2 separate regions of the Homo sapiens genome follow, and region 2 is linked to region 1. Evidence: fine-mapped expression QTL. Tissue or cell type: testis. Region 1 holds a variant in brackets; the other region holds the start of a gene. All regions are shown on one strand. Distances are between the middles of the regions.

Evidence for each region. PIP is the estimated chance that this variant, and not a neighbour inherited with it, causes the effect. A credible set is the group of variants that fine-mapping cannot tell apart.
Region 2: LINC02456 starts here. The variant in region 1 is the best candidate, but not a certain one, in a credible set for the expression of LINC02456 in testis (GTEx, PIP 0.80).

Annotation. Positions count from the first base shown.
Region 1 is chr12:102,548,412-102,551,334 of GRCh38, forward strand. The region is part of intron 11 of LINC02456 (long intergenic non-protein coding RNA 2456); the gene reads left to right. Among named protein-coding and RNA genes, the nearest start is that of IGF1, 69 kb to the left of the region's middle. The variant C/G (reference allele first, on the strand shown) is at 1,515.
Region 2 is chr12:102,278,148-102,281,070 of GRCh38, forward strand. LINC02456 (long intergenic non-protein coding RNA 2456) reads left to right here and starts at 1,427. Exons shown (of 13, transcript XR_007063427.1): 1 at 1,427-1,537.

The DNA of each region.
Region 1 (2,923 bases):
ATATATGGAGGGTAGAGAAAGACAAATTGAGGATGACTTCAAAGTTTCTGGTTTAGGTGAGCTGGTGAATATCAGTACCCATCATCATGAATAAGAAATGGAAGAGGATAGTTTGGTTTGCATGGAAAGACAAAGTTCATTTTGACAGAGTTTGAAGTGCTCATCGGACATCTGAGGAGTGGTGTGTGGGAGACAGTTGGAAAGAAGGATAGATTCAATGGAACAGGGAGTTTCAAGGAAGCAGTGGGCCCCAGTGCCAAATGGATTAGGAAGGTCAAGTAAGGTAAGGCGTGTGGAGCTACCACTGGATCTGTAAATACAGAGGTCAGCGTGACCTTGACAAGAACAGAGTCATTGGAAGGGTGGCTGGCAGCCAGACTGCTGTGGGTGAGGAAAGGAGGAAGTAAAATCAGCAAGGGGTGGCCTAGATTTCCAAGAATTTGCCTGGGAAGGGAGGGAGAGAGGGAGAGCAGGAGCTGCATGGAGATGGAGGAGAGAGAGGGGACATTTGTTGATGTATTTGCTTTTTTTCTTTCTTTCTTTTTTTTTTTTTAAAGAATGTGTGGTGTTTTGTTTTGTTTTTTTATGAGGTGAGAGAATCAGAGGAGAGAGGGAGGCTCAAGATTTAAAAAGAAGAGGAGCACTATTAATGGACCTAAGTGCCTAAGGGCAGCTAAACAAAGGACAAGTGGAAGGATTAACTTTAGAGGACATTTATTCTTTGAAAATAGCAGAGAGGAAGATAACAATGTTTAGAGAAATGGGCATATTTGCAGTCATGTGTGTGGGGTAGGAAACTGAAAAAATTTCATAATTATCTCAAAGAAGCACTAGCAAAAATCATTTGCCCAAGGAGAAGAGGGCTAGGAAACGAGTGAGACGGTGGAGGTTGGAATACCACTTTGGTAATCAGGGGGTAGAAGGGAAATTACATTCATGGAGAATTCACTATGTGTTAAGCACTGTGCTAGATCCTCATGCATAATAGTATTGGTAATAATAAATAATAGTTGAGGTTGGAACCCTTTGAATTCTTTGTAAAAAGTTGGTGCTCCATAAATATTTATTGAGTGATTGCAGTTTGCTTTATCGGCCCAGTTTGCAGGTAGGTCCCTCCTCTGATTCAATCAGTGAATATTAACTGAAAGTCTACTGTGAAAAAAATCCTGATTCTAGAAGCAGGGAGGAGGAAATGTGTGTCTTGGGAAGCTTAAGACAGTCCCTGCTCTCTAGGAACTTTCAGGATAAATGCTGAGACATCAGTTACTTTTATCCTTCCTTCCCCAGTGTCTCAAGATCCTGGGGGATATCCAGCATCTCGAATAGAATCTCAGATGACTTTGACCCCAGTTGTACACAGTTCATATAGTGGCTCTGGGTTCTATTACTATGACACCACCTCCCAGCAGTGGCTGTGAAGTTGCCTCGAGAAACATTCCTAATCCCAGGCCACTGGTTCTCACTGTGCGGCTCCCAACCCAGAGCATCAGTATCTTGTTTGAAGTGCAAATTCT[C/G]AGGCCTCACTCAGGAACTCTGGGGGATATAGCCTAGCAGTGTGTGTTTTCACAAGCCTTCCCAGTGACTGATGCTCACTCAAATTTGAGAATCACTTCCATCGACCAGGGCTGTCATGGTCTTGGCTGATCTCACGTCATTATAGGGACCTTTCTTGTGTGTTTGATACCAGTGCTTAGCATAGACATATAATAAATGTTCCTTGAAATCACTGGCCTTGATCAGGGCTGTGCATATGTGTGTATGGGTGTTGAGGAAAGGGTGCAAAGGAGAAGATCAGAGAGGGGAGGGGCATGCAGTTTTTGTCTTCTCCCTTTTCTCAGTGGGAAGAACATTGTGCTGAGAGCAGGTTGGTAACTTGGAGTAGAAAGATAGACAGACTTCTAGAATTGGCATGGAGCTTGGCAATGACTGAGACCAATGATTTGTAACTTCTTTTGGAGTGATAGATCTTTTGGGGAATAATAGTGTTGATGATAGTTATGATTATAGTTATTTATTGAGTGATTACTATGTACCAGCACCATGTGTTACGAATGTTATCACATTTAATCCTCATCAATAGGCTGTAGTTTATCTTCATTTACCAATAAAAAAAAAAGATGAGCTTAAATAGCTTTCCCAAAGTCACACAACTGGTAAGTGGTAGAGCTGGGTTTCAGATTTGAGATTTCTTTGTCTCTAGGCACTGAAACCACCAAGTCAGAGTGCGTAATATACAAGGAAGGCTTTAGACTCTCTCTCTCTCTCTCATGCACACACACATGCACACTTTTTTTTTTCAGAAATTTAAACATTGGCTTAATCAATGTTGATAATCAATGTCTCTTACCCATTACCTGTTACCCAAGGTAATTAATGTCTGTTGGCCATCTTAACTAGAGATTCCTGTCTCTCAGTTCATCTTCGCCTTAAGAGGAAACTCTTAAGTGCAGAAAGCCTGTTTCTTAGAACCCATTCTTCCTACAACTACTTTCCTCATTTCCAGCAAAGTCGTGGGGATCACTGGAAAGCACAAGGTGTTCTAAGATAGCGCACAGCATTCCATTTCACCTCCAAAAGATGTCAGTGTTTTTATCTCTCTCCCCACTTCCCTCCCTCCTTCCTTCCCTTTTTCTCTGCCTCCCTCTCCCTCTTCTTTCCCTTCTCTCTTTGTAAAAAGTTGTCTTACTCAGTTTCTTGAATGATCCCATGATGTTTTCTCCTTCATACTGTTACTTTGGCAAGAAGCAAACTACTGAGCATGTAGTGTACTGGATAAGAACTGAAGTACTTTCTTTTCTGTAAAGAAAGTGCGCATGTATCAGCTCTGTGACTATATTCCACATTGGCCCTGCTGGAGGGAAGATACTTTCTGGAAAAACAAGTCAACTTATCCCACTCTGGCAGCCTTCCTTTCTCATCAGAG
Region 2 (2,923 bases), 270 kb before region 1:
GTTATTTTATTATATCTTTATCACCTGTGTTCCATTTCTTCTGATCATTTCTTTAGAAACAAAGTCTTTTTATATCTATCATTTTCCTCCTTTGGATTCATTTACTTCATATTGTTGGATAATTTCTCAAGCATTTCTAACCTTACAAGTGATTTTTTTTGTCTACAGTGGTGTTGCTATTTTAATTTCTACTTGTAGTAATGTAGAAGATATTTATATGACATTATTTCCTTCATTATAGCTTTAAAATTTTTCTAGTTCTCTTTTGTCTCAGTATTTCATTGTTTTTGATTCAGGTTTCTTTCTGTACTTCCAGAATCCATAATTTTTGTAATTTTATTGAATATTAATTCATGATATAGTATTTTATGAAAATAATTGTATTTATTTTCATAAATACACTCATATCTTTCCTTGTTTTCAGAATTGTTATCAAGCAAATGGGTTCACTACCTGATGTACACAGAAACCAATAACTATAGCACTAGCTTTTGAGAAAAGAAAGACTTTATTGCAAAATGAGTCAACAAGGAGTCAGGAGTGAGCTCAAATCTGTTTCCTCAATCTGGGGTCTGGAGCAAGTGTATGGGCTTGGAGAGCAAGAGAAAAGATTTAGGAATGTAGATTTGTAGAATCTGATTGCAGGGGTTCAAATTTGACCAGTTATGGTAAGGTATATTGAAGTGAATTTTAGCTCTAGATCTTCTGGGTCAACAGACCCCTTGCTTCAGAAAGAGTTCTGGTATTATGGTTCCAGTCATGTTCCAGTCTTGTTGGCTTTGAGGAGAGAAATCATTTGTTTTGGGTATTGTTAGAGGTCAAAGCTTTTCCTGTTGTGCATGCCTGGGCTTCATGACTTGCAGTTTTTGGCTCTGTTACTACAAGGTAACTCAACATTTTGTTATTAACAACATGGGCCCAGTTTGGGCTGGTCCCAGAGTTACAGGATCTTTATATTGGTCCATTGTGATTTTATTTATTTTTCAAATTTTTTATAATCACTTTTAAAGTCTTAGATAATAAATAAAATTTAAATGATAGATTCCACTGAAAATAATTAGCCAAAACATAAAGCAGGTAAATTGCACCATTCAAACACATAATTCTTTTTAAACCTAAAAATAAGGAAGAAATACTTAAATCTTAGTTCTTTATTTGTACATAGAACTTTTTAACACTATATATAAATGTGAGAAATCATTTTGGCCAAAAAAGAAGTCAGAAGTCAAAATTCATAAAACAAACCTTAGGAATGTGGAGGTTAAGATATTTTCTGCCCTACCAATTAATTATTATTTATTAAAAGAAGTAGAGAGATCTGTATACATGAACAAAATTGAGACAACATGCAGGTATATCTGTTGACACCACTTAAAAAAACCCACATTTATTTTGAAAGGACTTGTGAACATCCAGTCAATAGAAAAATACATTCAGAAAACACTTACTGAACATTTATGATGTGTCAGACACTGTGTTAGAAACTTGGGAGGCAAAGCTTCTACGTCTAAGAAGCTCAGAGTCAAGTTGGGGGCAGGTAAGCACAAACTTTAAATATTTACAGTATTCTCTCTCTCTCTCTTTCTCTCTCTCTCTTTCTCCTCCCCAACCTGTTTTATCTAAACATGAGTTATACATGATATGTACAAGCTTATACATTCAGTTATGTGTCCCTTAACAGGGATATGTTCAGAGAAATGCATCATTAGGCCATTTCATCATTGCGTGAACATCACAGAGTGTACCATATGTACATAAACCCAGATGGTGTAGTGTGGTGTGGTGTACATAAACCTACTCCACACTTAGGCTATATGGTATAGCCTATTGCTCCTAGGCTACATACCTGTGCAGCATGTTACTGTACTGAATACTTTAGGTGTCTGTAACACAATGGTATTTGGGTATCTACACATATCTAAACATAGAAGAAGTGCAGTAAAAATATGGTATAAAAGATTCAAAAATGGTGCACCTGTATAGGGTACTTACAATAAATGGAACTTGCAGGACTCAAAGTTTCTCTGGGTGAGTCAGTAAGTGAGTAGTGAGTGAATGTGAAGGCCTGGGACATTACTGTACACTACTGTAGACATTATAAACACTGTGCACTTAGGCTACACTAAATTTATTAAAAATACTTTTCTTTATTCAGTAAGTTAACCATAGCTTACTATTAAATTTTTACTTTACAAGCTTTAAAATTTTTTAACTTTTTGATTCTTTTGTAATAACATTTAGCATAAAACATAACATATACACATTGTACAGCTATACAAAAATATTTTCTTTCTTTATATCTTTATTTCATAAGCTTTTTTCTATTTTTAATTTTTTACTTTTTAAAGTTTTTGGTAAAAACTATGGTACAAACACACACATTAGTTTAGGCCTTGTATTAGTCAGGTTCTGTAGAGGGACAGAACTAATAGGAGAGAGATATATAAAGGGAATTTTATTAAGTATTAACTCACATGATCACAAGGTTCTACAATAGGTCACAAGGTTTCACAATACGCCGTCTGCAGGCTGAGGAGCAAGAAGAGCCAGTCTGAGTCCCAAAACTGAAGAACTTGGGAGTCCAATGTTCAAGGGCAGGAAGCATCCAGCACGGGAGAGAGATACAGGCTGGGAGGCTAGGCCAGTCTAGTCTTTTCACGTTATTCTGCCTGCTTTATATTCAGTGGTAGCTGATTAGATGGTGTCCACCCAGATTATGAGTGGGTTTGCCTTCCCCAGCCCACTGACTTAAATGTTAATCTCCTTTGACAACACCCTCACAGACACACTCAGGATCAATACTTTGCATCCTTCAACCCAATCAAGTTGACACTCAGTATTAACCATCACAGACCTATACAAGATAAGGATCATCAATATTGCTGTCTTCCACCTCCACATCTTGTCCCGTTGGAAGGCCTTC